Homo sapiens: one gene and its partners. The protein of the gene in region 3 purifies or fractionates together with the protein of the main gene of each other region. This does not show direct contact. Each region holds a gene or a part of one and is shown on either strand. Other genes may lie near its edges.

Region 1 (7,394 bases), on a different chromosome or scaffold from region 3:
AGTAGTCTATGGCTGTACACCCACTTTGATAGGAAAATGAATATGCAAACCAAAAAACATTCAAATCATTTTCTTGAAAGCCCGCTAACAGGTAATATAATAGCAAATTATTCAAATGAAACAAATCTACAGAATTCCATTATAAAATCCTGTATACTTTCTGCCAACATAGTTGTTAATGACAACTATAAAATGCTAATATATGAACAAAATATGGCTTGTATTTCCAAAACTGGAGAGTTTTAGATCAGAATATAGGGAAAGATAGATGTTTATATTTGTAAATTATGTTCACGTCACATTGATATAAAATACGTTGCTACCAAGATCATTCAGGAAAAGAGCCACTGAATTTATCTGAGCAGGTTTTCTAACTATGCTATGAAGGGAGAAAATGAGACATCAGTGCTTTTTCTTCCCTTTAGATACCAAATTTAGCTATTACATGAGGCTGAGTCACTGTTCACATCTTTCTTAGTTAATGTCACTTTGCAAAGCCAGAATTTCTGGTAACTTATTGAATAAAATTATAATTTAACTGTATGATAAACTGAGTGATTCCTAAAGTATCTTTTTCTCCAGTGACCTACTTAAGAAAAAAGTATTTACATTCAATACGCTGTCCATTTTTGAAGTCTTTCCTACACTTCTGGTCAATTTTAAATACCTTATTTAGAAATAATGCCAATCCATTTCTAATTGCTAAGTAGAAGGATTTTTTAATCTACAGGGTATCTTAAAACTAATCAACCTGACATAACTTCCTAATTCCAGGAATGTAACATAATTCAAGCTTCAATTTTTCACTCAACATATTCTGTTTTACTAAAAGGATTTCCCACCTTACAACTATGAACAAGAAAAAATTTGTACTTAAAATAATATTAAAATGCAAGATCTCATTATTTAGTACAAGATTAATAGACTATAATTCTAATCTTAAAAATATCTATAGATGCAACTTCTCCAACTTGTTAATTCCCAAAGAGATTAATAAAAGATGTAATTAACATCTAAACTTAGAGCAGACTATCATGTGGAACAAACTATTTTAACAAGAACTGCACCATAGTCAAATAGATCAACCACACACATCACCCTTTATGGTTCTGAATAAGGTTAATGAGCACAATTTGTCATAAATTTTCCCATAACTCTGAGAAACTGAATTGAATAAAAAGACTATTTTTTTCTTAACACCTTATAAAGATAGGATAAAGGCCGTAGTTATCGTCTTTGGAACGTTGCACCTAGCACTGTATCTGGCAATATAAATGTCATTAAGTATATTTGTCAAAAGAATAAACAAACAACAAGCAAATAAGCAACCCAATGCACTACAGCCATTCAGCTCCTTATTACGTGCTAAGTATTTAAAATTATACATAATAAAATGGAATATACTCAAACTTTTATTTCTACCTAATAATGAAAGAATTACTCACTTAAAAGTTACACAATTTAACAGAACGTAGAGGTGCACTTTCATAAACCAATAACTTAGCTAAAACCAATAATGATTTTCTGCAATTGTATAACATTTTTCATTTAAGCTGTTTTTCTTTTATGAAATTAGAAAATATACAGAAATCCAAATAAATTTCTTTGCAATAAATAACACAAAGACAGGTACACTACACTTGATCTTAACAGTAACACATTTCTCTCATGAAGAGGTTATTTTTAAAAATAGCTAGAAATTTGGAGACAAAGGCAAAAAAAGGAGTAAAATAACTATAAATGTTCACTAATGTTCTTCCACTTCAAAAACTGACATCAGAGACAGAAAAGACCTTCTGCGTCTATCAGTGACTTCCTCTTCATGTGTCATAGAAAGAGTTCAACATGCTTTACAAAATCCATTACATTTTAAGACCATTTCCAATATCTGCTATCATAAATCAAGAAATCCATTTATTCAAGGTTACTTATGGAGAATTAATCACACAGAAAATTTTAACAACTCCTTTTTCAAAAATTAAAGTACTTTACTATACTTGGCATTCCTACACATAATGATATGGATTCAAACACTGAAAGCATTAAGGGCATATAATTAAAATTCATGGGCTTAGACATTTAAAAAAAGGTTTACTATGTAGTACTCTCTGTAACTAATATTCCAGAAAAATAAACCACAATACAAACACAGTGTAATCTCCTTTGGACTTCTCATCTGCTTAAGTGGCATTAGGTAACTTAAGAAGTTGTTCCAAAACACTTGTATGTACTTGATACAGCCTCAAAAACATGAAATAAAAAAAATCTGAAAAAAAATGAGATGAAAAGAACTGTGGACACCATGCATCAGGAACAAAAACTCAAGAATTTCTCTATTTGTGATGACTTCTAAAACCTATCTTCCTAATTTGGAAGGCAAATTTACTCAAAAGATAAAAATACACAGGTCAGTTATACAACATTTTCAGCCTTTATTGAGAGTACAGTCATCATGCCAAAATTCATCCATCAACATACAACCTTATTTCCCATCTAAAGTTAATGAGAATGTATTTTATTTTAAATGGGACATAGAGGCAACATGCCAAGAATTAAAGTACAACCATAAAGTTTTAGTTTCACACTTTGAATATCAACAAAGCAGTAATTCCTAAAATCATGAAAACATGATAAAGTATCTATACAGAAAAAAATGAACATTTAAGTCATTTCACGCTTTCTTAATATCATATAGTGAAAACAGATGTACCTATAATTTCAGCCTACAGATAGCATACTTCATAAGGTCATTATTCATTTAAAATAGTACAAATGTTTACAAAGAACATTTCACTTAAATTTCACAGCTGCTTATAAAATGGTACTTGCAAGACTGACCTATATAAAGAAATAAGAGTCTCATCAAGAGATGGTAAATTATAAATATATAATATATCACAATGTTAAAATCCTCAGTGCTAATCAATAAAGATAATGATCTTTGGAGAGGAAAGTATTTAGCTTTACATATTTACTGTGAATTTACATATTAATAAGAAACACATTTAAACCTTGCCCTGCCACAGAATTATTTTGCGGGGGGGGGGGGGGGGGGGAAGATGTACTTTTTGAATATGTGTACATCAAAACCAAAAAGTTAACTTTTACTTTTTCCTTTATTGGCAACTTTTGATGCATTTTTCGATTTTGGTTCCCAGAGGGCATTTTTTACAAATCTTGAAGCTGCACCTCTGTCCAGCTTGCCAGCCTTTTTCTTGTCTGTTATTTCCTTGACTCTGTTCATATATACTCTGATTCTTTCCTTAAAGATAAAAAACAAAGGCAATAGATTTACTAAGCTATTCGCCACCACTGAATTTTATTATACTGTACACCTTGGTTAAATTCAACATATATGTATTTATTGCCTATTAAAGTGCATGGTGCTAGGAAATGCAAATGAATAGGATAAATACGCTCCCTGCTTGCCTGGAGTTCATAGTCGGAGGGTGGGGAAAGACAGATGTTAAAAAGTCATTTCAGAAGTCTTCTGTTTCCAAAGAGTTAGAATCACACTAAGACATTACTCCAGAAATAAACATCGAATTGAAAGTTTCTAGGTGGTTATACATTTTTGAAAAACACCATTAACATAAATCTACATATTAACTGTTTTGTATCTAAAGTAAAAAACCGGAGCTTTCATATACTTGCAAAATACAAACTAAATTCTCCTGAAATTTTTCTAAACAGGAAATACATGAGGTAGTACTTAACTATCTTTTCACATTACCATCTAGTGTAACAATTAGGGAGAATGAAAATACAAATTATTCAATTTTATAATTTTGGTAAGTACATGAAATTTTCTAATAAAATATACAGTTCTAATCAGACTTTACAGGGTGAGAAACATAATATGTTGCTGTACCACTGTGAATCTTCTGAGACAATTAATCAGCATAAATGGCTATCTTACGCTTCAAATGAAGAAATAAAGTTGATGACAGCCATAAAACAGCAGAGTAAAAGACTGATCACTGCTTAAAAACAAGCTTTATTAAAATAATCAACATAGTTAATGCAGAATCTTAAAATGTTTTCATTGTGAAAGACTGGCAACTCTGCTCCACACTCTCTAGTGACGTCCCATTTCTGTCTGAATAAAAAAGCACAGTGCTTATGATGGTGGATACTAGCTACAGCACACACACACCAACCTGCCTTGGGGTCTTTGCCCTGCTTATTCCTCTGCCTAGAAGGATATTTCCTCAATTACCCATACGGCCACTTCCTCTCTTCCTTCCAGTCTACTCAAATGTTAACCTTGTCATTGAGGCCCTGACTTCAGCATTTAAAACTGCAGTCCTATCCAAGCACTCCAGTCCCCCTTACCCTACTCTTTTTCTTTGTTCCCATAACTTTCCAACATACTACATATTCATATATATTTCTTATTTGTTTACTTTATTATTTGTCTCCCTCCATTAGATACAGTCTGGTGTCTGCCACAAGGGCAGGGATCAGCATTACTCACAGAGGAATCATCTCTCACTTGGAAATAATGCCTAGCTCCCAGTAAGCACTCAAATATCTGTTGAATGAGTAAACTGACTTTTCCCATTTGTGATACATACGGCAAATAAGTTTCCTATCATACACTAAGTCTGTGATCAATTAGTAACATCTACGCAAGGTCAGAAAAGGGGAACAGGCTCTGTAATCCCAGCACTTCGGGAGGCCGAGGCGGGCAGATCACGAGGTCAGGAGATCGAGACCATCCTGGCTAACATGGTGAAACCCCGTCTCTACTGAAAATACAAAAAATTAGCTGGGCGTGGTGGCAGGCGCCTGTAATTCCAGCTACTCGAGAGGCTGAGGCAGGAGAATGGTGTGAACCCGGGAGGTGGAGCTTGCAGTGAGCCAAGATCACGACACTGCACTCCAGCCTGGGCGACAGAGCAAGACTCCATCTCAAAAAAAGAAAAAAAAAGAAAAAGAAAAGGGGAAGAGGTTTATGCATGCTTTTTATTCACCAACCCTTATCTAGAATATTAATGTACTACTTCAAAAGTAGATTCTGAGGTAGAAAGAAAACAAATGACCTTGTCCTTTCACAAAGACAGTATCAAGTATTCCAAATAACTTCATGTTAATGGAAAAAAGAGAAATTGTATGCAAAGTCTATATTAGGAAGTTGAAAACAGATGATACAAGCCATCATTTTAAAGGTTTAAAGCCGTATCACTGGTCAAACCAAGACCTGCATATCATATTGCTTTATACTTTTGCTTTAAATATTTTTCACAATTGTTTTATTTAAAAATAAATTTATTTTCCCCCCCAAGAACTTCAAAATAAGGAAATGTCTTAGACTACATGTTGAAAAACTGAAGACAACAGATCTGGCTTACTCATTTTTAAAAAGTAAAGGACCAAGTGCTTTACTAAGCTGTAAATAACATACATATCAACTACCCTAAAACTTGAGAACAAGAATACAATGTCAAGTGTATTTCATATCTATATTTGCCTTATATTTTATAAACACAAAGAATCAATTTATTAATATTCTTATTCATAAAACCAAGTCAAGAAGGTAACCATAAGTTTGATTTCTAATTTTTCTCTTCAAATTGAATGATTTGATTTAATTTTTGAAGTCAGCAAAAACTCCAAGATACCAGACCTTATATACTGTACTTATACATCTAAATGGAATACAAAGACAAACCTAGAAGATTTATTACAGGTTGTAAATATGTCTAATGCAGAATTACTGGACAGTACACATACAGCTGGTGCCAAAAAAGCTTTTAGCTTTGTTGCTGAACTGGATTCTTTACTGCTGAGAAAATGAATTAATGGAGGAATTGAAAAGGTGGGAGGGAGAAACTTTCCCGTCTTTGCTAGTAAATCAACTAGAATATACTTTTAAGAACTGTACAGAAGTTTAAAAAAAAAAGTAGTTCTAGAGATAAACAGGATTTCAAGAATTTATAAGAAAAATAATATGTAAGTTATAAATAATTACTAGAATCGTAACATTTTCCCATTCCGAGATTTATATAATATATGGAATACCAATTATCTGAAAAAGGTAAGAGAAAAAAAAACCCAAAGATAATAAGGTCTGGCTCACTTTCATAATTTCAACTCGAATTCTGTTCTCCCTAATTTGTGTGACAAAGGTAGTGTGACAAACCTCAGGAATACAACAACAAACACATAAAATAAAAAGAAATTAAAATCTTACCAATTCCTGTTTTACTGGATGTTCCTTAGGATTAACTCCTTGGGTTGCCAAATAAACTACAAGAGAAAAATTTCATGGAATAAAATGGTGAATGTATTAATTTAAAACATTCCAATTAAAGAAACTAGTTATTCACAAAAAAGGAAAGTCCTACAAACAATTAAACTTTAAATTATTCAATTTCCATGTAATACTAAATCTATGTGTGGCTCACTGGCATCTAGATTTAAAAATAAGTATCTATTAAAAGTGTTATAAAGTATAATTGTAAATAAATTGTTAGCATTTTAAAAATAAATCATCTTTCACACAATAAGTAATTTGCTTTCTAATTAATTCCAAAGTAACACACATACCCCAAAACATTGAATTTAATGTGTATGCAGAAACCAAATCCACTTTTGCTTGTTCAAGTGGATCCAACTGTTAAAAAAGAAAGAGAGAGGGAAAGAGAGAAAGTGAGACAGAAAAAAAATACACAAACTTTGAACACCATCTGATAACATTTGACTTTTACCAAGTACAATGTATCAAAGAAGTTTTTTTCACTTCATATAATCCAATAACCAAATGATCTGAAAATAATTTGTAAAAAGAAGTTTTCTTAATGAGTGACTTTTGTCCACACATTTTCACCTTAGGGTATCATCTTTAGTTAGACAAGGAAAGTGCATAACCCAAGAAAAATTCTTTTGAATTATTTTAATTTCGGGAGTTACGATCTGGGCTTTGTAAGTCAAAAGTAATTTATCAATATAAACATTGTACATGATGCATTTATGTATAAGAAGCAGGCTTAGGCAATACGAAAGACAGAAGAAACATAATGAGATTTGTTTTAGACTGTCAAAGTCAATTTACTGTTTTTGTCCTATAGGGTTTCCAGAAACCCTGATAACATCATTGTAATACTTAAAAGGTCAAAGATAGAGTCTGTCAAAAAGAATACCGTGAGTGCTCCTTTTTTTTTCCAAAACTAAGTTAAAAACATAGTTAGGAGGTATTTCCTAAGGCTGGAGTTTTCTTTTGTTTTGTTTCCCCCCTAAAAATACCCAAACACTAATAAAATTGAAATAAAGGGGAAAAGGGGCATAGGTCATTAATCTGTTTCTTCTTCCACATGTTTCATAAAATAGCATTCTGTTTTATGAAATTCATTTTTAGGAAATTACATTTTTAAAATACCTTCTGCAACAAC
Region 2 (9,859 bases), on a different chromosome or scaffold from region 3:
GAACCCGGGAGGCAGAGCTTGCAGTGAGTCGAGATCGCATCACTGCACTCCAGCCTGGGCGACAGAGCGAGACTCCGTCTCAAAAACAAAACAAAACAAAAAAAAGAGTAAGGGAAAATACTCACCACTCTCTCCAGAATTACATCATTGGCATCAACTAGTAAATCAAACTTGTCTTCCAGCTCAGTCACTTTACTTCGATCCTTAATGTTGCTGCGACACCCATGGTACTGCATTACTCTGCTCATGCTAAGGAAAGGAAAACCAAGGTTAGCTTGTAGATTTTTATTTCACTTGTTTACATTCTGTGAGAGAGAATGTTCAAATGATGTGGCTCAGACTGTTCCCAACACATCTTTTTTTTTTTTTTTGAGACAGTCTTGCTCTGTTGCCCAGGCTGGAGTTCAGTGGCATGATCTTGGCTCTCTGCAACCTCAACCTCCCGGGTTCAAGCGATTCTCGTGTCTCAGCCTCCTGAGTAGCTGGGATTATAGGCACATGCCAACAGGTCTGGTTAATTTTTGTATTTTTAGTAAAGATGAGGTTTTGCCATGTTGGCCAGGCTGCTCTCGAACTCCTGACCCGAAGTGATCTGCCTGCCTCCGACTCCCGGATTCAAGCGATTCTCATGCCTCAGCCTCCTGAGTAGCTGGGATTATGGGCACACGCCACCAGGTCTGGCTAATTTTTGTATTTTTAGTAAAGATGACGTTTCACCACGTTGGCCAGGCTGGTCTCGAACTCTTGACCTGAAGTGATCCACCTGCCTCGGCCTCCCAAAGTTCTGGGATTACAGGTGTGAGCCATGAGCCCAGCCTTTTTCTTTCTTTCTTTCTTTCTTTTTTTTTTTTTTTTTTTTAAAGAGACAGGGTCTTGCTCTGTTACCCAGGCTGGAATGCAGCAGTACAATCACAGCTCCCTGTAGCCTTGAACTCCTGGGCTCAAGTGATACTCCCACCTCAGCCTCCCAAGTAGCTGTGACTTGGGAGTGGTGCACCACCACTCCCAGCTACTTTAAAAATTTTTTGTAGGGATGGAGTCTCCCTACGTTGCCCAGGCTGGTCTTGAACTCCTGGGCTCAAGCGATCCTTCTGCCTTTGCCTCCCAAAGCACTAGGATTACAGGCATGAGCCGCCATGTCTGGCCCCTGATACTTTTTGATGAAACCAATAAAACTTGCACCCTAGCTGGGCGCAGTGGCTCACACCTGTAATCCTAGCACTTCAGGAGTGGTCACGACTTCGAGACCAGCCTGGCCAACATGGTGAAACCCCATCTCTACTAAAAATACAAAAAACTGGCTAGGCGCAGTGGCTTATACCTGTAATCCCAACACTATGGGAGGCTGAGGTGGGTGGATCACAAGGTCAGGAGTTCGAGACCAGCCTGGCCAACATGGTGAAACCTCCTCTACTAAAAATACAAAAATTAGCCGGGAATGGTCGTACATGCCTGTTATCCCAGCTACTGGGGAGGCTGAGGCACAAGAATCGCTTGATCTTGGGAGGTGGAGGTTGCTGCGAGCCGAGATCACGCCACTGCACTTCAGCCTGGGCGACAGAGCAAGACTCCGTACTCCCCCCCAACAAAAAAAAAAAAGCTGGTCGTGGTGGTGTACACCTATAATCCCAGCTACTCGGGAGGCTGAGGCAGGAGAATCGCTTGAACCTGGGAGGCGCAGGTTGCAGTGAGCCGAGATTGAGCCAATGCACTCCAGCCTGGGTGATGGAGCGAGACTCCATCTCAAAAAAAATAAAAATAAAAATAAAAATACCTGCTACTCTACAAGTTGTGGGAAAGAATCTTGGATCTGGCAAGGCGCGGTGGCTCACGCCTGTAATCCCAGCACTTTGGGAGGCCGAGGCAGGTGGATCACGAGGTCAGGAGATCGAGACCATCCTGGCTAACATGTTGAAACCCTGTCTCTACTAAAAATACAAAAAATTAGCTGGGCGTGTTGACGGGCACCTGTAGTCCCAGCTACTCAGGAGGCTGAGGCAGGAGAATAGCGTGAACCTGGGAGGCGGAGCTTGCAGTGAGCCGAGATCATGCCACCGCACTCCAGCCTGGGCAATAGAGCGAGACTCCGTCTCAAAAAAAAAAAAGAATCTTGGCTCTAAGTGTTCACGTCCCATTTAATTAAAAAAGATTTGTACAAAAGTCAATATATTTTTTCAGTACAAAAGTCAATACATTTTTTAAAGGCTAAACTAAAAATATACCAAGTAATATTTCCCTAATCAAAATCCATTGCTTCAATTTTCACATTTTATAGCTCTTCATACCACAGAAAATGTTTAAGGAAAAATAAATTTCAGGAAAAATTTATCTACTTCTTTGTTTTCATTTCTTTTCACTAACACAAGAAAACAAAGTACAGTACTTACCACTGAAGCAACCTGTCTCCCTGTGTTTCGCAAAATGCTTGGAAGCCAGGAAAACTTCGGTAAAAATCATACTCATCGCCAAACTGTGGTAGGCCCCCAGATGCCTTGGTGACTGCCACCACGGACCCAAGAGCAAACTGTCAAAAACAAGAAAAGATGGCATGTTTACACAGGGATCCCCATTCATTTGGTATGTCATTTTTTTGATCTATCGTATACAAGGTATCTACTCTTCATCCATCAAAAAAAGCACTCATTTAGTGCCAAACCCCAATCTAATCTAGGCCCTGAGAATACAATACTGAACAGGAAACCAAGTTTGGAGCTTATATTCTTGGGAGAGTTGAGAGACAGAATACATACGTATATAATCTGATTAATATTCACAAATACCTGGGGTTGAATCTTGACTCTGCTACGTATTAACTGAGATCTTGGACAAGTGATTGCTTTATTTGGACTTTAGTGTTCTCCTCTGAGAAACAGGAAAAATAAAAAGGGCCTGCACCACAGAGTTTTTGTGAGGACAGAATGAATAAGCTAATAAAAGCACTTAGGACAGTTCTTGGCACATAAGCGTTATTATTACGACTCAAGTTCAGATCCAAGAGCTTTCTACAGGAATTTGTTTTTGTGTTTTCATCTGGATGAGCATCTAAAAACAATACAAGCTTATCCTAGATCCTTGGACGACAAATTTATAACAGCTACTATCTAAAACTGGATTTGTGTTTATTGTTCAGTTAGTGTCAAGTGGTTCTCTATTTTAACTGTTGTGAGGTAACGAAAAAAAGCCGTGAAGTGACATAAATGATGGCTGATCATGTGAAGGCCTAAAACGTCATTGTGAGTTTTGTGAATAAACATTTCCCAAGAAAAAAGCAGAGAAAGGAGGTGGGAAATTAAGTCACGGAGGGGAACATGGTAGCTTATGAGCATGACCGCCACACAACCAGGACCACAGTTAGTGGTCCAGGAACTATTGAGAGCCATGTTAATGAATCAATAGCATTAGCTAACAGCAAATTAGATAAGATACAACGTTAGTGGAATTTCTGTAAATTTATAGGGTTAATTTACAAATTATTTTAGTTTCATTGCTTTGTAAGAGCTATGCACACCTTAAGCCTAGTTGTACGTTTGCTCATATTTAAGCTAAGTTATACAAAGATCTTAAGTGAACGCCCTGTATACCTTCCAGGAGTTACTAATAAACGTGCAATGGGGCTTTAACAGGTGACATTTAACTCAGGGTTAAAAATTATGTAGGACTGGACTTCAGAAACAGAGGAAGAGAAGGGCCATACTGGCCGCGGGAGGAGACAACTCCAGGCAAGTGTGGGGAGCGCGAAGAAGCCGAGCCCCTGCGGAGAGCTGGTCGGGTGGCTAGGGCGTGGCGAGCGCGACGTCGCAAGGGCTAGGGACGTCTGGGTGGCAAGGAAGCCTTTCCCAGGATGCGAGACGGCTTTCCACATTTGGGCCTCCATGGACTTAGGCTCGCAAGCGGGACGCCCCTCAGTGTCCGTTTCCGAGGCCCCATCCCCGGAGGGTGCAGGAGAGTCTGCGCCCAGCGCGGACAGGGGCCCCGCGACCCTCGCTCGGGCTCCACTACGGCGGGCGGGCATTGGCTGCCCAGAGGGCCCAGTCGGCTTCCGGCGGCCGCGGGCGACTCCTGGTACCCCCGAGGCCCCGCGAACTCACCTTCACAAAGCTGTCGGCGTCCGGGAAGCCTGGCAGCACCATCTCTCCGTCGGATTTGGTTGCGCTGGTCGCCGACAGGACCCTGGGCTCCCGGGTACTGGGTGGCGCCATTTTTTCAGCCTGCACGGCTCGTCTCGCGAGAGCTTGTCGGCCGAGGAGACGGGACGCGTGCGCACCACGCATGCGCCAGGTCGAAGCGGCGGGCGGGGCGTCTGATTATAGTGTGGGGAGCCTGCGATTGGGGTGGGGCGCCTGCGATTAGGTTGGGAAGCCTGCGTTTAGGGTGGGGCACCTGCGATTAGGTTGGGAAGCCTGCGATTAGGTTGGGAAGCCTGCGATTAGGGTGGCACTTTCGAGCGCTCTGGTGTGAATTTCACGTTCTTTTACCTCATATTGTATCATCCCAACAACCCTGTGATCTAGGGTGCGGCCTGGAGGACCTGACTATCACATATATTTTTGACACGAGGTTTGCCCAATCTGGTTTCGAACTCTTGGGCTCAAGAGATCCTCCCACCTTAGCCTGCGAAGTAGCAGGGACCCCAGGCGAGGGCCACGATCCCCGCTTATCCTCGTGTTTATTTAAAAATTTAAAAAACAAACAAACCGGGATTACCGGGAGTGGTGGTGCGCATCTGTAGTCCCAGCTGCTCGGGAGGCTGAGGTGGGATGGTTGCTTGAGCCGAGGAGGTGGAGGCTCCACTGCACTCCAGCCGGGGTGACAGGATGAAACCCTGTCTCAAAAATTTCTTTTTAAGGTTATGTTTTTGAGGCTGGGCGCCGTGACTCACACCTGTAATCCCAGCACTTTAGGAGGCCGAGGCGGGTGGATCACCTGAGGTCGGGAGTTGGAGACCAGCCTGGCCAACATGGTGAAACTCTGTCTATACTAAAAACACAAAAATTAGTCGGGCGTGGTGGCACATGCCTGTAATCCCAGCTACTCGGGAGGCTGAGGCTTGAGCCCGGGAGGTGGAGGTTACAGTGAGCCGAGATCGAACCACTGCATTCCAGCCTGGGCAACAGAGTGAGACCTTGTCACAAACAAACAAAAAAAACCATGTTTTTGGGACAAAGTTTCACTCTTGCTCTCCCAAAGTGCTGGGATTACAGATACGAGTCATCAGCGTGCAGCCTATTTTTATTTTTATTTTTTTTGAGATGGAGTCTCACTCTGTTGCCCAGGCTGGAGTGCAGTGACGCAATCTTGGCTCACTGCAACCTCCCGCCTCCCGGGTTCAACGAATTCTCTTGCCTCAGCCTCCCGAGTAGCTGGGATTACAGGCGTGCACCACCACGCTCGGCTAATTTTTTTCGTATTTTTAGTAGAAACGGGGTTTCACCATATTGGCCAGGCTGGTCTCGAACTCCTCACCTTGTGATCCTCCCGCCTCGACCTCCCAGAGTGCTGGGATTACAGGCGGAGCCACCGTGCCTGCCCTGTTTATTTTTTTTTTTTGAGACAGAGTCTCACTCTGCTGCCCAGGCTGGAGTGCAGTGGTGCAATCTCAGCTCACTGCAACCTCCGCTTCCTAGGTTCAAGTAGCTGGGATTACAGGCGTGTGCCACAATGCCCGGCTAATTTTTTTTTTTTTTTTGTATTTTTAGTAGAGATGGGGTTTCACCATGTTGGCCAGGCTGGTCTTGAACTCCTGACCTCAAGTGATCCACCTGCTTTGGCCTCCCGAAGTGCTGGGATTACAGGTGTGCGCCACCAGCGCCTGGCTTATTTTTTTTAGACTGCATCTTACCAACCTGGTCTCGAACTCCTGGGCTGAAGCCGTCCTCCCACCTCACTGGGATTACAGGCAGGAACCACTGTGCCCGGCCCAGCCTCATATTTAAAGTCACCTCCTCCCAAGCTCTGGCTGGTTCTGTGTTCCCCTCACCCATTTGGTCTTGACTCCTGTAATTAATTACACCTCCCCTGCCCCCTGGATCTATCTTTTCCCTCTCTATTGGTTCATTCCTAACAGCCTACAAGTACACTGACATCTTTCCCAACTAAAAGAGAAAAGGAAAAAACACTGGCTCCCACATCTCCTTCCAACTGCCATCATCTCTCTCTTGCCCTTTACAGGTAAGCTCCTGAAGAAAGCGTCTAGCTCCAACTGTGCTTCCTCCCTCCAGTACCCTCTGAACTCCTCCAAGCAGACGTTGTTTCCTGCAGACATCGCTGGAACCATTCTGGTTAACACAGAGTGGGAACTCAGTACACATTTGTGAAGTGAACTCCTGGAAGAGCTCTTGTGAGGGAGGCACCGAATTATCAGGCAGCTCAAGAGATAGATTCACTCTCCTGAAATTAGAGATGGGATGCCCTTAATACAATTCATTCCACCCATTAAGTCTTCAATAAATGTTCAGCATATCCAGTTAAGAGAATACTTGCTTTTCACTTTTTCCGTGTGTGTGCTTCAGGTACACAGGTACTCTGGCAGGACAAACGCCTAGTTCATTTAGTATTTTTGAGGACCTATTTCACGTGGTTCAACCTAATACCACATGTCAGTCAGGCTGTGCTAAATGCTCCTCCATGGATTATCTTGTCTTTCAGACAGCCTCACAAGGTAGGGCTTACCCACACTTTCAGAGGAGACAAGCAGAGAGAATCTACGTAACTTATCCAAGGTCACAAAGGTACTATGAGATGCAGTTGATATTTGAAACTTAGTAAGTTGACACTACAGCCTTGATTCTTTTTTTTTTTTTTTTTTGAGATGAAGTCTCACTCTATTGCCCAGGCTGGAGTGCAATGGCATGATCTTGGCTCACTGCAACCTCTGCCTCCCGGGTTCAAGTGATTCTCCTGCCTCAGCCTCCTGAGTAGCTGGGATTACAGGCGTGCACCACCACGCCCAGCTAATTTTGCATTTTTAAGTAAGAGATGGGGTTTCACCATGTGGGCAAGGCTAGTCTCAAACTCCTGACCTCGTGATCCACCCGCCTCGGCCTCCCAAAGTGCTGGGATTATAGGCATAAGCCACCATGCCCGGCCTCAGCCTTGATTCTTAAAAAATACAACTGGCTGGGCGCAGTGGCTCACACATGTAATCTTAGCACTTTGGGAGGCTGAGGTGGGAGGATGGCCTGAGCTCACCAGTTTGAGATCAGCCTGGACAACATGGCAAGAATCAGTCTCTACAGAAAATACAAAAATTAGCCGAGTGTGATGGCATGCACCTGTAGTCCCAGCTACTCAGGAGGCTGAGGTGGGAGGATAACTCGTGCCCGGGAGGTGGAGGTTGCAGTAAGCTGAGATTGCACCACTGCCCCCCAGCCCGGGTGATAGTGCCAGACCTTGTCTCCAAAAAAAAAAAAAAAAAAAAAAAAAAAAGAAAAAAATAGTTAACCTGTTAACAACATCTGGTGATTAGGGGCTCCCATCCCTTTGAGCAGTCGAAAATCCACATATAGCTTTTAACTCCCCCAAAACTTAACTAATAGCCTCCTGTTGACCAAAGGCCTTACCGATAACAAACGGTCAACTGACACATATTGTGTGTATGTATTGTATTCTTACAATAAATTACGAAAATTTTAAGGAAAATATATTTACTATTCATTAAGTGGATCATCATAAAGATCTTCATCCTTGTTTATGTATTTATTTTTAGAGATAGGGTCTCTGTCATCCAGGCTGGAGTGCAGTGGCACAATCATAGCTTACTGTAAGCTTGAACTCCTGGGCTCAAACAATCCTCTGGCCTCAGCATCCAGGGTAGACTGGGCCCATGCCACCATGCCCAACGAATTTTTTTATTTTTTGTAGAGGCAGGGTCTCACTATGTTTCCCAGGCTGGTCTCAAACTCCTAGATTCAAGCAATCCTCTCACCTTAGCTTCTCAAAGTGTTGGGGTTACGGGCATGAGCTGCCGTGCCTGGCTGGACTAAACTGTATTTAAAGGCCTCCACTAGCTCCTCCTCTGCCTTTGATAATTTGTCTCAACACACCCAGAAGGCTTTGCTTAGATATAACTTAAAACCTATCGGATTCACCAAAGACCTTAATCCAGACTCTTATATCCTAAAGAATATATCTTTATCACTGATGGCCACCATTTTCCTGCCTTTATCATTCTCACACCTTTATCGTTCATGAATAGTAACATCACTGTAGTCACTGAGAGTTATTTCATCTGGAGCCAGGAAAGTTATGGTGACCATATTTTCTGGAGCAAATAGGTGATACATGGTTTAGGACTGTAACAGAAAATCCAAGTAGGTATGTGACTTTCTAGCTGTGAGTGTTAGAACTGTTATTAGTATCACCATTGAGATTTAAATTCACCTTTTTTTTTGGAAACAGTCTTGCTCTGTCACCCAGGCTGGAGTGCAGTGGTGCGATCTCGGCTCACTGCAACCTTTGCTGCCCGGTTCAAGTGATTCTCCTGCCTTAGCCTCCTGAGTAGCTGGGATTACAGGCGCCTGCCACCATGCCCGGCCTTTTTTTTTTTGAAACGGAGTCTTGCTGTTGCCCAGGCTGGAGCATAGTGGTGCAATCTTGTCTCACTGCAACCTCCGCCTCCCAGGTTCAGGCAATTCTCCTGCCTCAGCCTCCCCAGTAGCTGGGATTACAGGTGTATGCCACCACACCTGGCTAACTTTTGTATTTTTAGCAGAGACGGGGTTTGGCCACGTTGGCCAGGCTGCTCTCCAACTCCTGACCTCAGGTGATCCACCTGCCTCAGCCTCCCAAAGTGCTGGGATTACAGGTGTGAGCCACTGCACCTGGCCACCAGTTGCCTTTTAAAAACACCACTCAGGGCTGGGCACAGTGGCTTCTCTGGGAGGCTGAGGGGGGCAGATTGCTTGAGTCCAGGAGTTCAAGACCAGCCTGGGAAAGATGGCAAAACCCCATTGTCTACAAAAAATGTTGCGGGAAGTCAGGAACCCTGAATGGAGGGACTGGCTGAAGCCATGACAGAATAACATAAATTGTGAAGATTTCATGGACATTTATTAGTTCCCCAAATTAATACTTTTATAATTTCTTACGCCTGTCTTTACTGCAATCTCTGAACATAAATTATGAAGATTTCATGGACACTTGTCACTTCCCCAATCAATACCCTTGTGATTTCCTATGCCTGTCTTTACTTTAATCTCTTAATCCCGTCATCTTCATAAGCTGATGAGGATGTATGTTGCCTCAGGACCCTGTGATGATTGCATTAACTGCACAAATTGTTTGTAGAGCATGTGTGTTTGAACAATATGAAATCTGGGCACCTTGAAAAAAGAACAGAATAACAGCAATGTTCAGGGAACGAGAGAGATAACCTTAAACTCTGACCGCCGGTGAGCTGGGCACAACAGAGCCATATTTCTCTTCTTTCAAAAGCAAATGGGAGAAATATCGCTAAATTATTTTTCTCAGCAAGGAACATCCCTGAGAAAGAGAATGCATCCCTGAGGGTAGGCCTCTGAAATGGCTGCTTCGGGGGCGGCCGTCTTTTATGGTGAAAGCTGTAGGGATGAAATAAGCCCCAGTCTCCCATAGCACTCCCAGGCTTATTAGGACGAGGAAATTCCCGCCTAATAAATTTTGGTCAGACTGGTTGTCTGCTCTCAAACCCTGTCTCCTGATAAGATGTTATCAATGACAAAGCGTGCCCAAAACTTCGTTAGCAATATTAATTTTGCCCCGGTCCTGTGATCTTGCCCTGCCTCCACTGCCTTGTGATATTCTATTACCTTGTGAAGCACGTGATCTCTGTGACCCACACCCTATTCGTACACTCCCTCCCCTTTTGAAAATCACTAATAAA
Region 3 (8,991 bases):
CAAACTCTAGGCCAGGCACAGTGGCTTACACCTGTAATCCCAGCACTTTGGGAGGTCAAGGTGGCAGAACTGCTTTAGCCTAGGAGTTCGAGACCAGCCTGAGCAACACAGCAAGACCCTATCTCTACAAAAAAAAAAAAAAAAAAGTTTTTTAGTTAGCTGGGTGGAGTGGCACGCGCCTATAGTCCTAGCTATTCGGGAGGCTAAGGAGAGAGGATCTCTTGAGCCCAGGAGTTTAAGATTACAGTGAGCTATAATGACACCACTGTACTCCGGCCTGGACGAGAGTGTCACCCTGTCCCTCAGAGAAAATAATGAAAGTTTTCAAAAATTAAAAAAAATTAAACTTTTAGGTTTTGTGATATTTTTAATAACCTTACAAGTAATGCAAATAGGAAGTATTATGCTTAGGTATGGAATATGGGAAGCTAAATGACTTCTCTGGGATGAAAATGCTTGTCAAAATACCCTAATCAAGAATCAAATTCTGGCCAGGCACAGTAGCTCACGCCTGTAATCCCAGCACTTTGGGAGGCCAAGGCAGGTGAATCACTTGAGGTCTGGAGTTCAAGACTAGCCTGCTGGTGAAACCCCATCTCTACTAAAAATACAAAAATTAGCCGGGCGTGGTGGCAGGCGCCGGTAGTTCCAGCTGCTCGGAAAGCTGAGTGGGAGAATCGCTTGAACAGGGGAGGCAGAGGTTGCAGTGAGCTGAGATTGCACCACTGCACTCCAGCCTGGGCAACAGAGTGAGACTCTATCTCAAAAAAATAAAACAAAATAAAATAAAATAAAATTCTAATATCCTAATGCAGCACAATTTATTGGGACTAAGATTTTCAAAGTTATCCCTGCCACTGACATGGTGTGGCCCTGTGTAAATCGATAAACCTATCCAAATGAAGGATTTCATCTGTTCTTGAGTTCTGCATGAAAAAGGAAAACTACCTGCTTCTATGAACTCATGTAGAAAATGAGAGATTATATGAAAAAGCCACAAGTTCTTTGAATAAAATATTTTTACACAAAAATCTAAGTTGCTATTTTCACCCTTTTAAGATAAAGGGTGAAAACCTTTTAGAAACCTTTAAGAAAAAGGGTGTCCTCTGAAGGGACACCCTTTTTGTCCCTTCAGAGAGAGAGAGGTAGCACAAAGTTCTAAGGGTATCACTCAAGAACATCTGAAGTGAAGCAAACCAGTACAATACTGAGTTAACTAAAGTTCTGAGAATAAAAGGATAGATACCGGGATCCATGATCAACAGTATTCATCCTAAGATTAAGAATTATGGGCATATTCCCCACCTTTTCACCAGCAACAACACAGAGAGACTCAGTGTCTATACACTTCGAATTTCTTAGACATCTTTCCATGAGTCGATTCAACTTCACCAAGAGATCTGACTGCCTATAAGGAGAAAATAGGAATGGGCTAATGTCATGAAATATAACACCAGGTATTAAAACAAAAGCTCACTGCTGTTAGGTTCTCCTATGACTAAAGCAACTTAAGAAAAAGATTTAAATACCTGCCAGGTTCGAAAGCTGGAGCGGCCATCTGAGAGAGTTCAAGGTTAAAAAAAAGAATACCTTCTGTTGCCCGATTGAGTTTTGGAGACACAAGTTCACAGGAAACCTGTCCAAGAACTCTGCAAAGATAAAGTTACAAAGTATTAACCAAATAGACTCTCCTTCCAAAACAAAAAACTGAAACAGATAACAAGTTTCAATCTTAATGTGAGTAATATCATACTCAGCCAAATAAATCATAGGAGATAAAAATTATATGTAAAGTATAATATACACAGAAATAAAACATAAATTGGTACAACTAAAAACACGACAGAAAAAACACCTCTCTTCTTATTACAATGTTTACTATTCCACAGATTGTTTTAAAAATCAGTGACCTTTACCTCTAAAGCAAGTATTTATTGATACAAGATGGCATGAAAACCTGAGATTTCTTAAAGGTTTTCACATGGCATAGTTCACCACCATTATGTGACCAAATAGCCTCACAACTTTCAAATGAATATCTGAAAACCTAATTTTCATGTCACTCAGGAAAAAGAAAGCAGGATGTACACTTAATGACAAGATGCTCAAGATCTCTATATTAGTGTGAGAAACAAATTCCATATGATCACTACTAGTTGTCTATACGATTTATAGAAGTCAGAAAAGAACTATGTGATACGTGACAGAAAATACGTTTATGATTAAAAAGTTCAAGTGTGACCACAAAAGCAAAAAATCTCGCATAAAAAAATACTTATTTTTGTCAGCTAAACAAAGAATACTGTCCAGACTTCTTAGCTGCTTTATAAACAACCAAGTCAATAAGGTCTTTTTTCAAACTTCTCCCTTCCGAATGTGTATCTCATTTAAATCCTGTTACCTTGTTTTTCCAAGTTCCACAATGCAGCATCCGTAATCTGTTCCAAATGAGATCCTGATGTTCCTATAATCATAGGTTTGTCTGCCATCCAGCCGCTGTAAGCACAAATTCATTCATTAATTTATTCCTTCAACAAGTATTTCTTAAGCAACTACTTTTTGTCTGGCCCTGGGCTAAGCACTTGGGGGAAAGTGGAATCCTAACCAGCCCGCCCATACAGGAAAGTGGAAACTACAGCATGGACAACTGCTGCGGTGACTGGAGCCTTGAAAAGAACCTGTCGAAAAAAAATAAATAAAGCCTGAGGGATGGGGTGAACGTGCCGGTCGTTCCCCTAGTAGCTCCCCGGGCCCAGGCGGGCCAGGTATCAGTCCACACCTTGAGACCCGAGCGCCCACGCAGCGCGCAATTCTGCGGGCACCAAACCATACCTTCTTCTCTTCGATGGCACGGAGTAGGAAGCGGCGTTCGCAGTTTGAGAGTGGCGTTTCCTTCATGGTGTTGGGTCACCGGCCCCACAGGCACCAGAATCCGCGGGAAAAACGGAACCCGATCTTTCCTTGCGCGCCGCTGCTCGCCCCGAGGCGCAGGAAAATTACGTCATCAAGGCGCGGCGGCGGAAAAATGGGAAATGGCTTGGGCTGCAGCTACTGCGCAGACTCAAAGCGTGATTGGGGAAGGCCAGCGAGCTGCGAGAAGCCATTGCGGCTTTGGGAGGCCGTTTCTGAACGTGAAGTTCCGTTTCTTTTCTCATAAAGTGCAGAGGAGAAAAGGATACTTAAAATAACCATGAGAGTGATAGAAATTATTATCAGTAGACCGCTCGCACACTTCACCCTTTGCTCAGTCCTCTCACGGGGTGGAGACTAGACATGTACTTCTGCAATTTCACAGATGAGTTGACATTGGTCCCTGGAAAGCCGCAGATGCAGGATTTGGAGCAGATTAAATGAACAAACACTGGAATGAGGCGGCATAAGGGTTGGGGGAGAAAGATAAATTGGTGAAATGGGATGTTTTTGTGGCCAAAGGTGAAATCTTGTGGGATCTGAGAAGTTGATGAGAATGGAGAATGTTCGCACGTAGTAACTAACGATGTTACTACTACTGTGGACTGAAAGTAAATGCACCGTTTATTTCTTATCCCCTCTCCAGTTATTTTAAGTCGATAGACTTTTTTTTACGGTCACAGAGAAGCCTTAGCGGGGCCATGCTGCCAACCACTCAGCTTTTTTGGAGAGGCAGTATCAAATAGTAGTTTTAAAAAGTGTTCACTGCCAGGGTTCAAATTTTAAGGCTATCATTAACTACTATAACCCTGGGCAAGTTAACCTGTGTGCTTCACATTACTCACCGGCAAAAAAAAAACAAAAACAAAAACAAAGCAGGGGAAGTGAGAAACCTATTTATTCTGAGGAATAAAAATGAGTTAATATATACATAAAATGTTTAGAACAGTGCCTGGCATGGAATAAGCACTATTTAAGTGTTTGCATATTATTATTTTGTTTCCTTTTGCTTTAGAGGTGGTAGGCACTGTAACTCCTACGCAGTCTTTCTCTGGCTTCTTTGGTAGCTTCTCACAAGTTTTTTCTACCAGTGATACATTTTAGTCTCACTTTGTACCACTTGCAATCCATGTACTCAATAAATACTTGAAGAGGGCCTACTCTGTCCAAGAATAATTTAAGTGCTGGAGAAACAGGGTAGACAAGATCCTTTCAAGGAATTTATATTCTTTTTGGAAAAGGCAAAAAACCCTAAACAAATAGAACAATTTCATACAGTGTTAAGTGCTCTCTGAGAATAGGAATGCTATCTTAATAGGGGTAGTTGCAGGAACAGGTGACTTTGTAGCGGTGACATTAAAGTAAAGTAAATCTTTGGTGTTGAGCAGGAGCACCCTTGATGCCATCTGGAGAGGAAAAGTGTTTCAAGCAGAAAGAGTAACATATGCAAAAACTGAGATGAGATGAGCTCCACATGGTCTGGAGAGAGAAATTGTGAAGAAGGAGGAAAGTGGACAGAAATGATTAATTTTCAAAATCGGCAAGGGGATTACAGGGTACTAACCACTTAAGTTCTTTAGCAACATGAATTCATTTTTATAGTACAGTTTCATACCAGAACTCCTGGTTGATAAGTTCTTCATTTAAATCCTTGAGTTCTTTCAGTGGCCATTTGGTAATTTTTCCCTTCAGCGATGAAATAGACCTTTGTTGAAATAGCCTGTTATTTACTGCAAGGCAGCTTGGTAATGGAAAGAGAATGGACTTTGGCTTCAGATAAAGTTCAGCTCAAATGAACTTGGAGTGAGCTAAATATTCTTTCTGATTTGGGGGTTCTGTATCTTCAGATTGGAAATAACAATTATTCTGTGTTAAGTGGTCTGAATGAAAGCATCTGATGAAACATTTTGGACATGATAGCTATTCAAATGTTAGTTTCCTCCTTTCTTGTTGGGTTGGCAAAGGCTTCCCATGAAACTGCCCAAACTCAGCATGACAGATTGCTTTTCTGAAACTGCTGCTTGATTACTTTGCTTTCCTTCCACTTTTGTTGAATTTCCACTGTTCTTTTCTACTTTCACTTTTATATTCTAATTTAAACACTCTTGCTTTTGTCTTTTTATTTTCGAGTTAATCCAAAGGTGTATGACCCATCTCCACTTACATCTACATACCATCCTAAAATATATGTACTTTACAACCTTGTGTTTATAAGAAATTTTTGAATGCCAAAGGAAAATTTGTTTCATGATTTCAGGGAAAAATAAGTTTGGAAGGTTAAGAAGAGGTTCAGATAATGTGTCAGGTAATGTGATACATTCTATTATTTTTTTTTTCTTTTTTGAGAGAGTCTCACTCTGTCACCCAGGCTGGAGTGCAGTGGCATGATCTTGGCTCACTGCAACCTCCACCTCCCAGGTTAAAGTAATTCTCCTGCCTCAGCCTCCCAAGTAGCTGGGACTACAGGCATGCACCACAACGCCTGGCTAATTTTTGTATTTTTAGTAGAGATGGGGTTTCACCATGTTGGTCCGGCTGGTTTCAAACTCCTGATTTCAGGTGATTCGCCCACCTTGGCCTCCCAAAGTGCTGGGATTACAGGAGTGAGCCACCGCACCTGGCCTCACCTTCTGTTCTTAAAAGAAGAATCAGTTGGAATCAGCATATTAATCTGGATGATCTGTCTAAAAATAACCTAGTTCTCAACAAACTATTTGAGTGTGCATTCTCTTTATTGAACATCAGTTGCTTTGTCTGACCAGCAGCCTTCTATTTCTTGGAGAAATGCCCTTTCCTGACCCCATGCGATTCTAGTGAGCCAATACATTTGAGTTGGTCTTTGTAAAAGTGTGTCCGAAGGAATTCTAGTACATTTCTACTAGAGTATAAAGTCTATGTCTTCTTCACCTTTGTAGCACCCACTGAGACTGGTAGTGTACCTTGTGAATCAAAGGATGAATGGCCTACTTAGCACATCTGGTGAAAGAATTAATGGGTGGAGGCCAGGTGCGGTGGCTCACGCCTGTAATCCCAGCACTTTAGGAGGCCAAAGCAGCCAGATCACTTGAGGTCAGGAGTTTGAGACCAGCCTGGCCAACATGGTGAAACCCCCGTCTCCACTAAAAATACAAAAATTAGCTGGGCATGGTGGCACACACCTGTAATCGCAGCTACTCAGGAGGCTGAGGCTGGAGAATCGCTTGAACCCAAAAGATGGAGGTTGCAGTGAACTGAGATTGTACCACTGCACTCCAGCCTGAACAATAGAGCAAGAATCCATCTCAAAAATAAAAAAAGGCTGGGCACAGTGGCTCATGCCTGTAATCTCAGTACTTTGGGAGGTCAAGGTGGGCAGATCACTTGAGTTCAGGAGTTCGAGACCAGCCTGACCAACATGGTGAAACCCTGTCTCTACTAAAAATACAAAAATTAGCCAGGCATGGTGGCCCACACCTGTAATCCCAGCTACTCGGGAGGCTGAGGCTGGAGAATCACTTGAACCTGGGAGGCAGAGGTTGCAGTGAGCTGAGATTGTGCCACTGCACTCCAGCCTGGATGACAGAGTGAGACTCCATCTCAAAAAAAAGAAAAAAATGGGTGGATGAGTGAACAAATGAAAGCTTACCATTTTATTTACCATATATCTGCTGTACAATTTGTCTGTATAGAATTTGGTGTACCAAAAGTTATCCTGGAAGGGTATAATATGAAATATTAAAAATGGTTATCTCTGAGTGATAGGATTTTGGGAAAAGGTTTTTATTTCATTTTGCTATTTTTTCTTTATGAACTTTCCAAATCTTCTGTAAGGCATGTGAATAGCTTTTATTATCAGAAAAAGTAAAAAGTAAAAAGGTGTTATGTTTTCTTTTTATTGTTTGGCCATACTTAGCTAATTTTTTTATTTAAGGGAATTTTGACTTTCAACTACATTTTAACAAAGACATTTGTTTTGTTTTTTTTCAAGATTCAAACGGGAAACCACTTATCAGTTAATATGTTGAAAAGATTTTATGTATTGACAACTGAATATGTCAAATATAGTGCAGGCCTGGCGCGGTGGCTCACGCCTGTAATCCTAGCACTTTGGGAGGCTGAGGCGAGTGGATCACAAGGTCAGGAGATTGAGACCATCCTGGCTAACATGGTGAAATCCCATCTCTACTAAAAATACGAAAAAAATTAGCCGGGCGTAGTGGCAGGTGCCTGTAGTCCCAGCTACTCAGGATGCTGAGGCAGGAGAATGGCGTGAACCCGGGAGGCGGAGCTTGCAGTGAGCCGAGATCGCGCCACTGCACTCCAGCCTCGGCTACAGAGTGAGACTTCGTCTCAAAAAAAAAAAATGTAGTGCAAATTTCCCTCGCATATGTTTTATGGGAATTATAGATTTTTAAGTCCATTAGATTATCCAGTCCATCTCTAGCTTCCTTGGATATTGAAAAGAGCTTTTCCTTTGACTCTGATTATATCATTTGTTATGTCCAGGAAGCTATATTATTATTATTAAGGCTTTACAATGTATTTAGAGGAATAAAAAATTATCCATTTTCAGCTTATCAAAAATACAACAAATTAGAAGATAATTCAGGGAAGGGACATTTTCATTTCACTTAGATTATGCATATGGCTCTATCTTGGACACATCACTGATGCCCTTGGATTTGTTCTCATCTATTAAAAGAAGATTCATGCTCATCGATAGAAATCTGTAGGAAATTATATTGTTTAATGTCTAAGCAATAAATATGATCTAGAAAAGTTGTCACTTAGTTTTCTACAAATAAAATAAGTGGAATTTGCTATTGTGAATTAAACTAATTGTCATGTAAATAACTTATAGTGTTGTATAGTAAGCAAAACAATGGCCTCTTTTAAAGATTTCCACATTCCAATCTCTGGAAACTGTGAATATGTTGCCTTATATGGCAAAAGTTATTTTGCAGCAGTGATTAAGTTATGGGTTTTCAAATGGGGAGGTTATCCTGGATTAGCTGGGTGAGCCCAAGAAGGAGGCAGGAGAGAGAGACCTGGAAATTTGCATTTTTAACTGGCTCTCTGGTGATGCTGATGCTGCTGGGCAGTGGATCACATTTAAAAGTGGCAAGAGTTTGGATAAAGATGATTTCTGTTCAGTAGACCTTTTGGAATTTATAAATAGGAAGAGTTTAGGATCAGTAATCTGGCCGAAAGGGACTGAAGAACTCAGAAGGCTGCATTTGCTTGGTAATCACACTGCGTTTACTTAGAATGAGAGTTTATTTGGATGGATTGAGGGTGATAGAGGTTATGAGAGAGGAACTAAACAGGCTAGCAAGCTGTGTTTTGTTTTTCTCTCAAAGAGTTTTAACAATATTTGAATCCTTTTGGCAGGGCATATGTTGAAGGCCAAAAGAATGAGGGTCATGATCAACTCAGCATACAACTGAAGGCTATATGAGTAAACAGCAAACTGTTTCTCATGAAAGCAGGATGTTGGCAAACTGACAAACTGCATCTGCCGCCCAGAAGGAATGCTGAGGGGAGTCACAACCCAGGCACAGGTGTTTCTTGTGGTTAGGCACATGTGAAGCCTGTTAGCAATAACGTGAACCTGTGATCAATCAAGCAGCTGACCAATTGTTACCTCCTTCTCCCTGCTCTTTCTACCCGATAAATACGAAGGGCTGCAGAAGCTCAGGGGCTGCTGCCTTTGCTCACTAGAAGCAAGGAGCCCTCTTCTTTTTCCCCTGGTCCCTTCCTTTAAAACAGTTTCTTTTGTTTTAAGTTTTCATTTCTGCATGCGTCCGTTTTCGTTCAGTCTCGTAATGACAGTCTCAAGTAGTGACAGTAGTAAGTCTTGTAATGACAGTCTCAAGTAGTAACAGTAGTAACTGTTGTAGTGACAGTCTCAAATAGTAATGTTTTGTTTTTTGTTTTTTGTTTTTTGTTTTAAGATGGGAGTCTCACTCTGTCACCCAGGCTGGAGTGCAGTGGTGTGATCTCGGCTCACTGCAACCTCCACCTCCTGGCTCAAGCAATTCTCCTGCCTCAGCCTCCCAGGTAGCTGGGACTACAGGCATGTGTCACCAAGCCCAGCTAATT
Region 4 (2,831 bases), on a different chromosome or scaffold from region 3:
GCTACTGTCCCTGGCCAATTTTTGTATTTTTAGTAGAGATGGGGTTTAATCATCTTGGCCAGGCTGGTCTTGAACTCCTGACCTTGTGATCCACCCGCCTCGGACTCCCAAAGTGCTGGGATTATAGGCGTGAGCCACTGCGCTCGGCCTAGAGTTAATTTTTCTAGTGGGGTGTTTGCTGGCAAAGTAACAAGTTTCCAACAAGGGGAAGGCCAATGCACCTCATCAAAATGGGAGAGTGGGAAGGAAGGCCTGTGACAGAACTTTACCTGTGCATCCTACCACCCGCCCTGTGTCCTAATCCCAGCTAGTACTGGAGACAGCAGGTAAGGGTTGAGTCAAATATGAAATAGGAATTTTTAAGTGGAGAAGTGGACTCAGGACTAAGTCTTATTATCTGAAAGTGACTGAAAATTACCTGACAAATGTCAGAGGGGCCTATGACCCAAACGTAATTACTGGAAAAATAAAACATTTGAAAGAACTGATTGGAGACGAGATAACCAGTAATTTCGGGTTTATTAAACTTATTAGAAAGGGGCCATCTGCAGAGCCACCACTTACTGTCCACTCATTACTGAAAACTCTGTTTCCATAGTGACCTAATTATACTTTATTTAATGCAACTTTAATGAATGAGAGAACTTTTTTTTTTTTTTTTTTTTTTTTTGAGATGGAGTCTCGCTCTGTTGCCCAGGCTGGAATGCAGTGGTGCGATCTCGGCTCACTGCAACCTCCTCTTCCTGGGTTCAGGCAATTCTCCTGCTTCAGCCTCCCAAGTAGCTGGGACTACAGGCGCATGCCACCACGCCGGGCTAATTTTTGTATTTTTAGTAGAGACTGGGTTTCACCGTGTTAGCCAGGATGGTCTCAATCTCCTGACCTCGTGATCCGCCCGCCTCAGCCTCCCAAAGTGCTGGGGTTACAGGCGTGAGCCACCGTGCCCGGCTGAGAACATTTTACATATATGCGAAATAGCTACCCAGTCCTGATCGACTAGAGCACTGAGTGACACACATTAAATGTTAAGTTTGAAAAGACTGTAAAACATTCACATATGACAGCTCTTAGTGAAGTAAGAGCCTCTCATATTCCATAATTGTTTGAAACATCCAGGAGAGCTAGGTCCCGTATCTCCTCTAGAAGTGTGTATAGGCTCCTTCCCTTTGTTTGGCGATATTCTTGATATTCCTCCTGAATGATGTTTACTTTGACTTCTTGGGCAAGCTGAGCTTCTTCCACAGATTTAGTTACTTCTTTCACTAACTCACTCTTCAGCAAGGGGGAACTCTGATGAATAAGTTCTGTATTTGGTATCTTGTATGGTTTGTTACTAATTATTTCAAGTCTGATTGTATCAGAATGGCAACGTGAGGCCTGTATGGATATTCTTACCTAGCATAGAGAAGAAAATACATATTACTAAATCACATTATTTATTCCTTACATTTAAAATATTAATAATACTTAATAGAAACACAGACTTACGGTTACATGGTCAAACAAATGGAACGTAACAGATTCCCCATCTGTTGTAGTAGAGGTAATTTTGTTTTGAAATCGTTGAAGGGATCCTGGTTTCCATTCAGAACAGCTATCTGGGCCACATGAGATGACTAAACCATCTTTATTTTTTAGATAAGCAGCACCTTTAATCCCAAACCTATATTATGACCAGAATATAAATCCAGAGACAATGTATTCTTAGTACACAGATCTTGTATGCTTATCTAGAATACTAGTTTTTCTCCTAGATTAAAAACAAATCACTTTTCCTGTGGTTTACCTCCACGTATTTATTTCACCTTAGCAGATGGAAACAAAGTATTTTGCTGGATAAGAAAGACCCTAAAATGGATATAGAAGTGTGTGTGTATATATATACACACACACACACACACACACACACACACTCCAGTCTTCACTTTTTTTTTTTTTTTTTGAGACAGAGTCTTGCTCTGTCGCCCAGGCTGGAGTGCAGTGGCACGATCTTGGCTCACTGCAACCTCTGCTTCCCGGGTTCAAGTGATTCTCCTGCCTCAGCCTCCCAGGTAGCTGGGATTTCAGGCATGCGTCACCATGCCCGGCTAATTTTTGTACTTTTAGTAGAGACGGGGTTTCACCATGTTGGCCAGGCTGGTCTCGAACTCCTGACCTCAGGTGATCCGCCCACCTTGGCCTCCCAAAGTGCTGGGATTATAGGCGTGAGCCACCCCTGGCCTCCAATCTTCACATTTATATACTGAATTATACATTACATTATGTACATATGATAACTAGTTGCTTAAATATTTTAATAAATTATATCTAATGTACAGTTTGTGTTCTACACTTTTAACTATGATTTCTTATGCACCATTGCATTAGATGTAACATACCTTGGTATAAATAGAAGCACACCATTTGTTCTAATTGAATAAATAACTCCGTCAGATATGCAACGCTCCTCGGTGGCAGGGTCTTTGTCTTTGAAGTACATGCACTGGAAGAGCTCAGTAGACTGCTTCTGAGAATGCTGTGCTGCCTGTAAGAAGCACAACTCCAAAGCATTTTAACACTCCCCTGGCATTCCCCAAAGAAACGAAATTCATATTCATTCAAATGTGAGATTCTGTAAAACTATTAATATAAAAATTGTTCTCTACTATGAAATTAAATTACTTTTTGTGGGAACTTAACCATCTAGTATTATCTCCTCAAAAATGTCTTAGAAAATGAATTATTTTATAAAATGAAACCCATTTATAGTTCATGAAATTAGAGATCAGCAAATTTGGGTCATGTTCACCTTGGGTACAGGAAAAGTATTACACATGTCTTACTTGCATTTC

The links.
Region 1: the proteins of EXOSC9 (region 3) and C1D purify together in Homo sapiens (affinity purification with mass spectrometry; 3 studies listed by BioGRID and IntAct, with this or other methods). This does not show direct contact.
Region 2: the proteins of EXOSC9 (region 3) and EXOSC10 purify together in Homo sapiens (co-immunoprecipitation; 7 studies listed by BioGRID and IntAct, with this or other methods). This does not show direct contact.
Region 4: the proteins of EXOSC9 (region 3) and DIS3L purify together in Homo sapiens (affinity purification with mass spectrometry; 3 studies listed by BioGRID and IntAct, with this or other methods). This does not show direct contact.

The regions. Positions count from the first base shown.
Region 1 is NC_000002.12:68,039,792-68,047,185, forward strand, and holds the end of C1D (nuclear nucleic acid-binding protein C1D), read right to left. Parts: coding exon 7,382-7,394; intron 6,620-7,381; coding exon 6,553-6,619; intron 6,253-6,552; coding exon 6,197-6,252; intron 3,263-6,196; coding exon 3,098-3,262; 3' UTR 1,339-3,097; downstream 1-1,338. UniProt on the Homo sapiens protein: Plays a role in the recruitment of the RNA exosome complex to pre-rRNA to mediate the 3'-5' end processing of the 5.8S rRNA; this function may include MPHOSPH6.
Region 2 is NC_000001.11:11,095,633-11,105,491, forward strand, and holds the start of EXOSC10 (exosome complex component 10), read right to left. Parts: upstream 4,238-9,859; 5' UTR 4,200-4,237; coding exon 4,089-4,199; exon of another isoform or gene 4,043-4,088; intron 2,525-4,042; coding exon 2,388-2,524; intron 250-2,387; coding exon 126-249; intron 1-125. UniProt on the Homo sapiens protein: Catalytic component of the RNA exosome complex which has 3'->5' exoribonuclease activity and participates in a multitude of cellular RNA processing and degradation events.
Region 3 is NC_000004.12:121,795,332-121,804,322, reverse strand, and holds the start of EXOSC9 (exosome complex component RRP45), read right to left. Parts: upstream 3,001-8,991; 5' UTR 2,899-3,000; coding exon 2,833-2,898; intron 2,497-2,832; coding exon 2,402-2,496; intron 1,650-2,401; coding exon 1,530-1,649; intron 1,409-1,529; coding exon 1,306-1,408; intron 1-1,305. UniProt on the Homo sapiens protein: Non-catalytic component of the RNA exosome complex which has 3'->5' exoribonuclease activity and participates in a multitude of cellular RNA processing and degradation events.
Region 4 is NC_000015.10:66,331,568-66,334,398, reverse strand, and holds the end of DIS3L (DIS3-like exonuclease 1), read right to left. Parts: exon of another isoform or gene 2,531-2,831; intron 2,525-2,530; coding exon 2,379-2,524; intron 1,664-2,378; coding exon 1,489-1,663; intron 1,396-1,488; coding exon 1,087-1,395; 3' UTR 501-1,086; downstream 1-500. UniProt on the Homo sapiens protein: Catalytic component of the RNA exosome complex which has 3'->5' exoribonuclease activity and participates in a multitude of cellular RNA processing and degradation events.